4 separate regions of the Homo sapiens genome follow, and all the other regions are linked to region 3. Evidence: fine-mapped expression QTL. A gene starts in region 3. Each other region holds a variant in brackets. All regions are shown on one strand. Distances are between the middles of the regions. Region 1 has its middle 48 kb from the start of C9orf72. Region 2 has its middle 81 kb from the start of C9orf72. Region 3 holds the start of C9orf72 (C9orf72-SMCR8 complex subunit). Region 4 has its middle 14 kb from the start of MOB3B.

Region 1 (2,692 bases), 48 kb before region 3:
AAAAGAATACTTTACCACCTCCCCCATTCTCTTCACCCTGGGGAACTGTTAAATGAGGAAATTGTGGTTCAAGGAGGAACTTGTCTATATGCTTTCTCAGCTTTCCCGTGGTAATTACCATCTTGATAATATAACGTAATGTATGTATATGTTATCAAATAATATAATATCTTCATCATATATTTATCATCTTCATAATGTTAGCTGTCTAGTGGTAACTTTTTTTTGCTCTTTATTGCCTCCCTCTTTTTTCCCTCTTTGTTGTTTTTTGTCATACAATTATGATATATGTGTATATATTCTCACTGTAAAGATGTAAACAACACAAAGATTATTGAACAAATCACGAAAGTAACCCTTCCTTCATTCTTACCCTATCCAACCCTCATCTCCTCAGAAGAATACACCATTTTAGTTGTAAATGTTTTTCTAGCTCTTTTTCAATGTTTCTACCTATATGCATGTATGTATAATGTATATACATACATATATACATACATATTGATATATACATATATAGAGGTATGGTTTTTTAACTTAAATGGAATTGCATTGTGGATATTGTCCTATGACTTGCTTTCAACCAAATTATATGTCTTGGAAATACATACATATATTTAAAAAATATGTTATGTATATGTAACATACTATATGTGCATAATATATATTACATAGATATAATAAGGCCTAGGAAGAAATTGTGTGCAACCTCTAGTACATCTTCCTCTATATCTACTGTACATACATACAACCCATTCTTTTTTTAATTTTTTTATTTTTTTAGACAGAATCTTGCTCTGTCGCCCAGGCTGGAGTGCAGTGGCACAATCTCGGCTCACTGCAAGCTCCACCTCCTGGGTTCACGCCATTCTCCTGCCTCAGCCTCCCAAGTAGCTGGGAATACAGGCACCTGCCATCAGGCCCAGCTAATTTTTTTTTGTATTTTTAGTACAGATGGGGTTTCACCGTGTTAGCCAGGATGGTCTCCATCTCCTGACCTCGTGATCCGCCCACCTCATCCTCCCAAAGTGCTGGGATTTACAGGCGTGAGCCACCGCGCCCAGCCACAACTCATTGCAGAGTAGTCCAAAATATGGATGGACTGTAGCTTAATTACTTATTCTCCCATTGATAGACACTTAGGACTTTTCTAATTTTTATAATTTAAAAATATGCTGCAATTAACAAACATTCTTGTGTATCTTTTTGCTGTATGTATGCATATTTCTTTAGTATGGGTTTTGGAAGAGGAATCACAAAGGAGGCATAGAATATAAATATTTTTATTTTGAAAAATACAGTTGTAATTTAATAACCCACCAAAAGACTCTAACAGTTTAGATTCACATCAACAGTGTAAGAACATGTCTGTTTTACTGCATCCTTACCC[C/T]CACTGGTTATAATACTTTTAATTAACAATCTTATGGATGAAGAATACTATCGCAATGTTGTTTTAATGCATTTTTCCAATTACTAGTGAGATTGAACATTAATTCTTTTATTTTATGGATCACTGGCTTTTCTCCTTCTGTGAACTACCTGTTCACATCCTCTGCTTTTCAGCTCTTGAGCTGTTATCTTTTTCTTATTGATTTATATGAGCTCTTTATATATTCAAGATGTTAATCATTTGTATTTTATGTATATGGCAATGATTTTCTTCCAAACCAATGCTTGTCTTTTATTTATTTATTTATTTATTTATTTATTTGAGACCGAGTCTCGCTCTGTCGCCCAGGCTGGAGTGCAGTGGCGCGATCTCGGCTCACTGCAAGCTCCGCCTCCCGGGTTCACGCCATTCTCCTGCCTCAGCCTCCTGAGTAGGTGGGACTACAGGCGCCCGCTGCCACACCCGGCTAATTTTTTGTATTTTTAGTAGAGACAGGGTTTCACCGTGTTAGCCAGGATGCTCTCTATCTCCTGACCTCGTGATCCGCCCGCCTCGGCCTTCCAAAGTGGTCGGATTACAGGCATGAGCCACCACGCCTGGCCAATGCTTGTCTTTTTATCTCTGTTTATGGCATCTTTCATACTATGGACATTTTTATTTTTATTTTTTATGTTGATTTATTCTTGAATTGTATACATGTTAATTATACCTAAGTTATTGTAATACCCTTAAAGCCAAGTTCTACACATATATTTAATTTGCTTTCCCAATAGGTCTCTGAGGGAACACATTTTTTCAAATCACTTTGTTTCATCTTTTTTAGGTGTTGATCAATTATTAAGGAGTTTGAAATAATCATTTAAACGGAATTCTTCAGATGAAAACATAAAGACATTTATCGGGTCAGAGCATTGGTCGGTTCACATACTCAGGATCAGTGGCCTGGGTGGGCAGGCACTGGGTGAATGGAGAGCTGCAGGTATTGGAAGAGAGCCCAGTTGGATATGTAGTTTCCAAAGATCATCAAGGCAGACAACCAAAGGGAAACCGTGGGAAACACCTGCTTTGGGCCATCTAAGATGAGATGATAAAGTAAGGAAAGAGTTGAGCCCAACACAGTGATAGCCAATCTGAAAGCGGGCAGAACTGACAAGACCAAACAAGTAGGTGAACTGGCTGCAGGCAGCCAGCCACCACAGGGACAGCGTGTACTCCAGGGACAAGCTCAAGGCTATAGGTAGTTAGTTCAAGGCTACTAGGGTGAGAAGAGCAGGAACTGAGTTCTATACCAGTGCTTCTCAA
Region 2 (2,692 bases), 81 kb before region 3:
TTTAGAGTTTCTAAAGAACCCAAGGAAAAGTGACATGTTCGTATTCTAAAAGATGAAAAGGACTTAAAGACAGATGGTTTTGAAATTGGTTCTGTTCTCAGCATTTCACTCTGGTATTTATTTAAAAGGCGTTTCAGCCTACTTCTTCTGTATTCATCTTGCTCCATATACCTAACCACTCCTTTCTACCCAATTCACAGGCTGATGATCCTGACACTGTCTCTCTGTCTCCAGCTCTCTTCTTTATGACCTTTACCACAGAGAATACTTCCCTTTTTCCATATATAAACTAAGCTCCCAGTTTCCTGAAATATAGGCAACACTACAAAAGACATTGCAGCATATCTGGAGTACTGAAACAGGAAAAGTTCCCTTGCCCCCTTCACAGGGTGTGCGATGGGGGTGTGGCTAGCTTCTTCAGTACCCCACTGCTCAAACTTTTAGGGGAGCACACAGGCAGGCAGGCTGTGGGGCTCTGACCCCACAGCAGTGTCTGGGAGTGAATGTTTACAGCTGAAGCTCCAGTGGGCATATGTTACAAGGTGCTCTTTTAGTTTAGCCATCCCGCTGCTTGTGTTAGTAAGCTCAATTAGACCCACGCGTTGTCGTAAGGACGGAGGGCTTTCTGTATCCTGGGGTTCTTGCCTTGGTGTACCGGAAGAATCGGATCACACATGGGCTTTGAGAATAAATGCAAGCTTTTATTGAATGGAAGTAGCACTTAGCAGATGAGAGAGCCAGAAGGGAGATGGTTTTCCCCTGGAGTCAGGCTGCACAGTAGCCTGGGCTCTCCTCCAACTGCCCCTGCCAAACTCTGCCTCATTCCGCTGGTCGATGGCCTGATGGCCTGTTGGCGTGCCAGTGTCTGTCATGTGCTCTTCCACCAGCATGCTCCCCTCTACATCCTCTCAACGTCCAGCCATTTGTGTCTTCTTCCACCAAGGTGTTCCTCTCAACGTCCAGCTGCTTGTGTGTCTGCCTGCTAGTCGCGGTTTTTATAGGATGGGGGCGTGGCGGGCCAGGGCGGTGCTGGGAAATGCAGCATTTGGGCGTGAAGGTAGAAGTGCCTGTCCTCACCTAGGTCCGTGGGCACAGGCCCAGGGGTGCAGCCCTCGCCGGGGCCCTGCCCTTCTCCTCCCAGCACTTCCTTGCTCCCCTTCCATATCACTACTGCCAGAGTATAAGAAGTTAAACACCAACTAAGATAAAAAGAAAGACTATGGCTCCTTTCTGCAGAAGAACTTTGATCAAATGTTTGTATTACAAATAAGGAGGTATTTATTTGAGGCTAAAAT[AG/G]ACCTAATTCTAAAATAAATAAAATAAAGCAAACATAAGAGAAATTTTAAATAAAAACCTTTACTCAGCAATTCTACCTTTGTTTAGTCAAGAGAAGTAAAATGCATGTCCATACAACTATTTGTGCAAGAATATTTATAAAAGCTTTGTTCATAATAGCACCATACTGGAGACAGTCTAAAAGTGCATTAGTAACAGAATACATAAACAGATTGCAGTATATCCACATAGTGAATATGTTCAACAATAAAAAGGAATGAAGTACTGATATATGCAATAGAATATATGAATATCCATAATGTTATGCTGAAATAAAGAAACCAAACACAAAAGAGTGCGTACTATATGATTCCATTTATATGAAATTCTAGAGAAAAGCAAAACTAATCTATGGTAACAGAAAGCAGACCAGCAGTTGACTGAGGCCAGGGATGGGGGTGATGGGGGAGATGACTACAAAGAGGCATGAGGCAATTTCTTGGGGTCATGGAAAGGTCTTGATTGAGATAGTGTTCCCATAGTCATATACATTTGCAGAATGTCATCAAAATGAACCTTTTAAATAGGTACATTTTACTGCACGTTAATTATACATTAAAGTCGACTTAAAAGCAAAACATCCTAAAGCTGGGCCTTTCCCAATTCTTATTACTGTAAAGACATAATTGACTTTAAGTGACATTGTTATTTACATAAATGTTAAAAATATTTTTATTTAACATAGATTCTTCATGCAGATACATTAATTTTCTTAGTCATAATTTAATGGAATTTAATAATTCATGATATTCATATGTCAGAGTGGTACAGTCATGTGTTACTTAATGATGGGGATACATTCTGAAAAATGTGTTATAGGTGATTTCATATTTGTGTAAACATCGTAGAGTGAACTTACATAAACCTAGAGGGTATAGCCTGCTACATACCTAGGCTATAGCATAGCCTATTGCTCCTAGACTACAAACTGGTACAGCATGTTACTGTACTGAATACTGCAGGCAGTTAAAATGATGAAAAGTATTTGTGTATCTAAACCTATTTAACATAGAAAAGGTACAATAAAAGTACTGGTATAAAAGATTTAAAATGGTACGCCTGTTCAGGGCACTTACCATAAATTAAGCTTGCAGGACTGTAAGTTACTCTGGGTGAGTCAGTGAGTGAGTGGTGAGTGAATGTGAAAGCCTAGAACTTTACTACACACTACTGTGGACTTTATAAACACTGTACACTTAGGCTACATTAAATTTATAAAAAGCTACTTTCTTCCTTCAATAATTAATTAGTCTTAGCTTGCTGTAACTTTTTAAATTTATAAGTTTGTTAGTTTTTTAACTTTTTGACTCATTTGTGATAACACTTAGCTTGAAACACAAACACATTGCACAACTAT
Region 3 (2,692 bases):
TTTGTGTATTTATTCCTCCCTTTCTTCCTCGGTGAATGATTAAAACGTTCTGTGTGATTTTTAGTGATGAAAAAGATTAAATGCTACTCACTGTAGTAAGTGCCATCTCACACTTGCAGATCAAAAGGCACACAGTTTAAAAAACCTTTGTTTTTTTACACATCTGAGTGGTGTAAATGCTACTCATCTGTAGTAAGTGGAATCTATACACCTGCAGACCAAAAGACGCAAGGTTTCAAAAATCTTTGTGTTTTTTACACATCAAACAGAATGGTACGTTTTTCAAAAGTTAAAAAAAAACAACTCATCCACATATTGCAACTAGCAAAAATGACATTCCCCAGTGTGAAAATCATGCTTGAGAGAATTCTTACATGTAAAGGCAAAATTGCGATGACTTTGCAGGGGACCGTGGGATTCCCGCCCGCAGTGCCGGAGCTGTCCCCTACCAGGGTTTGCAGTGGAGTTTTGAATGCACTTAACAGTGTCTTACGGTAAAAACAAAATTTCATCCACCAATTATGTGTTGAGCGCCCACTGCCTACCAAGCACAAACAAAACCATTCAAAACCACGAAATCGTCTTCACTTTCTCCAGATCCAGCAGCCTCCCCTATTAAGGTTCGCACACGCTATTGCGCCAACGCTCCTCCAGAGCGGGTCTTAAGATAAAAGAACAGGACAAGTTGCCCCGCCCCATTTCGCTAGCCTCGTGAGAAAACGTCATCGCACATAGAAAACAGACAGACGTAACCTACGGTGTCCCGCTAGGAAAGAGAGGTGCGTCAAACAGCGACAAGTTCCGCCCACGTAAAAGATGACGCTTGGTGTGTCAGCCGTCCCTGCTGCCCGGTTGCTTCTCTTTTGGGGGCGGGGTCTAGCAAGAGCAGGTGTGGGTTTAGGAGGTGTGTGTTTTTGTTTTTCCCACCCTCTCTCCCCACTACTTGCTCTCACAGTACTCGCTGAGGGTGAACAAGAAAAGACCTGATAAAGATTAACCAGAAGAAAACAAGGAGGGAAACAACCGCAGCCTGTAGCAAGCTCTGGAACTCAGGAGTCGCGCGCTAGGGGCCGGGGCCGGGGCCGGGGCGTGGTCGGGGCGGGCCCGGGGGCGGGCCCGGGGCGGGGCTGCGGTTGCGGTGCCTGCGCCCGCGGCGGCGGAGGCGCAGGCGGTGGCGAGTGGGTGAGTGAGGAGGCGGCATCCTGGCGGGTGGCTGTTTGGGGTTCGGCTGCCGGGAAGAGGCGCGGGTAGAAGCGGGGGCTCTCCTCAGAGCTCGACGCATTTTTACTTTCCCTCTCATTTCTCTGACCGAAGCTGGGTGTCGGGCTTTCGCCTCTAGCGACTGGTGGAATTGCCTGCATCCGGGCCCCGGGCTTCCCGGCGGCGGCGGCGGCGGCGGCGGCGCAGGGACAAGGGATGGGGATCTGGCCTCTTCCTTGCTTTCCCGCCCTCAGTACCCGAGCTGTCTCCTTCCCGGGGACCCGCTGGGAGCGCTGCCGCTGCGGGCTCGAGAAAAGGGAGCCTCGGGTACTGAGAGGCCTCGCCTGGGGGAAGGCCGGAGGGTGGGCGGCGCGCGGCTTCTGCGGACCAAGTCGGGGTTCGCTAGGAACCCGAGACGGTCCCTGCCGGCGAGGAGATCATGCGGGATGAGATGGGGGTGTGGAGACGCCTGCACAATTTCAGCCCAAGCTTCTAGAGAGTGGTGATGACTTGCATATGAGGGCAGCAATGCAAGTCGGTGTGCTCCCCATTCTGTGGGACATGACCTGGTTGCTTCACAGCTCCGAGATGACACAGACTTGCTTAAAGGAAGTGACTATTGTGACTTGGGCATCACTTGACTGATGGTAATCAGTTGTCTAAAGAAGTGCACAGATTACATGTCCGTGTGCTCATTGGGTCTATCTGGCCGCGTTGAACACCACCAGGCTTTGTATTCAGAAACAGGAGGGAGGTCCTGCACTTTCCCAGGAGGGGTGGCCCTTTCAGATGCAATCGAGATTGTTAGGCTCTGGGAGAGTAGTTGCCTGGTTGTGGCAGTTGGTAAATTTCTATTCAAACAGTTGCCATGCACCAGTTGTTCACAACAAGGGTACGTAATCTGTCTGGCATTACTTCTACTTTTGTACAAAGGATCAAAAAAAAAAAAGATACTGTTAAGATATGATTTTTCTCAGACTTTGGGAAACTTTTAACATAATCTGTGAATATCACAGAAACAAGACTATCATATAGGGGATATTAATAACCTGGAGTCAGAATACTTGAAATACGGTGTCATTTGACACGGGCATTGTTGTCACCACCTCTGCCAAGGCCTGCCACTTTAGGAAAACCCTGAATCAGTTGGAAACTGCTACATGCTGATAGTACATCTGAAACAAGAACGAGAGTAATTACCACATTCCAGATTGTTCACTAAGCCAGCATTTACCTGCTCCAGGAAAAAATTACAAGCACCTTATGAAGTTGATAAAATATTTTGTTTGGCTATGTTGGCACTCCACAATTTGCTTTCAGAGAAACAAAGTAAACCAAGGAGGACTTCTGTTTTTCAAGTCTGCCCTCGGGTTCTATTCTACGTTAATTAGATAGTTCCCAGGAGGACTAGGTTAGCCTACCTATTGTCTGAGAAACTTGGAACTGTGAGAAATGGCCAGATAGTGATATGAACTTCACCTTCCAGTCTTCC
Region 4 (2,692 bases), 30 kb after region 3:
AGAGATTGTTAATACCACATGATCTCACTTACACACAGAATTGAAAAACTTGGAACTCATAGAAGCAGAGAGTAAAAACATGGTTACCAGGTGCTGGGGAGAGGCGGTGGGCTGGGGAGATGTTGGTCAAAGTTAGACAGGAGGAATAAGTTCAAGAGATCTATTGTACAACTTATTCAGTTAGATAGGAGGAATAAGCTAAAGATCAAGAGATCTATTGTACAATGTGACTATAACCAACAACATATATTGTACACTTGAAAATTGCTAACAGTATCTTTTAAGTGTTCTCTCTACAAATAAATATGTGAGGTAATGTATATATTAATTAACTGTAGTCATTTCACAATGTATACTTATTTCAAAACATCATATTGTATGCTATAAATATATACAACTTTTATTTTTCAATTTTAGAAATGTCCTTAAAAAATCAGATTTTCAGATCAGATAAAAAAGCAAGACCCAACTATATGCTGCCAACAGGAAACACACCTTAAAAATAAAGGACGAACAAACAGATTAAAAGTAAAAGGATGGAGAAAAGATACATCATATTGGTAATTAGAAGAAAACTGGAGTGACAATATGAAACAAAATAGATTTCAGAGCAAAGAATATTACCAGGGGTAAAAATGATCATTTTATAATGATAAAAGAGTCAGTTCAGCAAAAGGATATAACAGTCCTAAATGTTTTTTCACCTCATAGCTGTGTCAAAATAGATGAAGCAAAAACTGATAGAACTGTAAGAAGTAGACAAGTCCACAATTATGTTTGGAGATTTTTTTTTTTTTTTTTTTTGTCGCCCAGGCTGGAGTGCAGTGGCAGGATCTCAGCTCACTGCAAGCTCCGCCTCCCAGGTTCACGCCATTCTCCTGCTTCAGCCTCCCCAGTAGCTGGGACTACAGGCGGCCACCACCACGCCTGGCTAATTTTTTTGTATTTTTAGTAGAGACGGGGTTTCACCGTGTTAGCCAGGATGGTCTCGATCTCCTGACCTCGTGATCTGCCTGCCTCGGCCTCCCAAAGTGCTGGGATTACAGGCATGAGCCACT[G/A]CACGCAGCCTGGAGATTTTAATATCCTTTCAATGTTTAGTAGAACAAGAATACACAAAATCAGTAAGGATATAGAAGATTAGAACAAGACTATCAAACAATTTGACTTAAATGACATTTGTAGAGCACAGCAGTCCCCAACAACAATAAATCACACATTCTTTCCAAGAGTACATGAAACATGTACCAAGATAGACCGTATTTTGAGCCATGAAACAAATCTTGATAAATTTAAAAGGATTCAAGTCATAGAAAATATGTTCTCTGACCACAATGGAATTAAATTATTAACCAATAACAAATATCTGGGAAAACCTCAAAAACTTGGACACCAGCGCTTTTAAAAGACTAAATAATTTCTAAATTATCTGTGTTGGGGGGAAAAGAGAAATGGATTAGAGAGCAAAAAGGGTATCAGAGTGCTGTGGTACGATTTTTATGAAGAGTGGAACAGAATCTGCCTTTGGCGTTTCCCCACTACAGCCCATTCTTCACATTGATAACAGCATGATCCTTCTAAAATTAAATCTAACGATCACTTCTGCTTAATGGCTCTCCAACACTTACAGAATTAGGTCCAAAATTCTAGCACAGTTTCTGTTCATCTTTCTAACCTTTCTTCCCACAGGTCTAGCTAGTACGTATTTCTTTTATTGCATTTATTACACTATTCCTTTGCTTATCTATCTCCCCACCTAGGCTAAAGAACAAGATTCTTGTCTTTTTCATTTTTGTGTCTCAGTGCCTAGCATGGTGCCAGGCACACAGCATGCTTCCAGTAAATGTTAGCTGGATGGATGTAATGAGTATATTAAATATTAATTTATTTGTTTTTCCCCAAAAAGAATTATTTCCTGCAAATCAAGGAAATTGCTTTCTTTATATAATCAAAAACTTATTTTCCCAGAAGATTCTTCATTAAAAATTAAGCCTATGCACAACCTAGCTCTAAAGTTTCAAAGATTTTAGGCAGCAATTTTTCAATCTTTTTGAAGTAATACATTTGAATCTTTTCAAATTTCTGTTTCTGCATTTGTGCCACACCATCTCATCTCTTGCTGAAATGTTTTTGTTAAATTAATTGCTTGATAAATTGCTAAGTACTTTTCATCAGACCAATTAGGACAATAGTAAGTATCCATCTGTGGAGCGCGGACATTCAAGAAATCTGATCCAGTATTTAGAAAGTCATTCCTGAGCTGAGTTGGCTCAAACTGGCACCTTCTGGCATTTGCTTGTGGGTGGGGAATGTGGAATGCTTTGAAAGCTGAATGAGTTTGTCAAGTTTTAAAATTCCCTTATGGCTAAAGGAAAACAACATTCATTGTTTAAAAACACCATTGTTTGTTTTTTCTGCTTTTTTGTTCTTTGGAGCCTGAATCTGCAAAAACACTCACACCCAGCATTTTGCTTCATGTACCACTCCTAAGATGTTTTTAGAGACTTGAATAGTGTCTCCGCACTACTTTTTATTGTGATTGTTCAGAATGTTCATAACAAATGGTAAAAAGTCAGTTTTAGTGCTCAAATTGAGTTTTATGGAGAAAGACCATAATTTATGTTTGTCATTGTAAATTGATAGGAGAATTTTTGGAAGTTTGCGTCCTAGAACCAGATTTCCAAGGCTCAGATCC

The links. PIP is the estimated chance that this variant, and not a neighbour inherited with it, causes the effect. A credible set is the group of variants that fine-mapping cannot tell apart.
Region 1: its variant is the best candidate, but not a certain one, in a credible set for the expression of C9orf72 in nasal epithelium (TOPMed, PIP 0.89).
Region 2: its variant is the best candidate, but not a certain one, in a credible set for the expression of C9orf72 in liver (GTEx, PIP 0.85).
Region 4: its variant is the best candidate, but not a certain one, in a credible set for the expression of C9orf72 in prefrontal cortex (BrainSeq, PIP 0.53).

The regions. Positions count from the first base shown.
Region 1 is chr9:27,620,261-27,622,952 of GRCh38, reverse strand. No RefSeq gene overlaps it. Among named protein-coding and RNA genes, the nearest start is that of C9orf72, 48 kb to the right of the region's middle. The variant C/T (reference allele first, on the strand shown) is at 1,391.
Region 2 is chr9:27,653,204-27,655,895 of GRCh38, reverse strand. No RefSeq gene overlaps it. Among named protein-coding and RNA genes, the nearest start is that of C9orf72, 81 kb to the right of the region's middle. The variant AG/G (reference allele first, on the strand shown) is at 1,296.
Region 3 is chr9:27,571,921-27,574,612 of GRCh38, reverse strand. It overlaps C9orf72 (C9orf72-SMCR8 complex subunit), which reads left to right and starts at 1,132. Exons shown (of 11, transcript NM_018325.5): 1 at 1,132-1,182. RefSeq lists enhancers at 523-1,050, 1,649-1,738 and a silencer at 1,059-1,138.
Region 4 is chr9:27,542,302-27,544,993 of GRCh38, reverse strand. No RefSeq gene overlaps it. Among named protein-coding and RNA genes, the nearest start is that of MOB3B, 14 kb to the right of the region's middle. The variant G/A (reference allele first, on the strand shown) is at 1,059.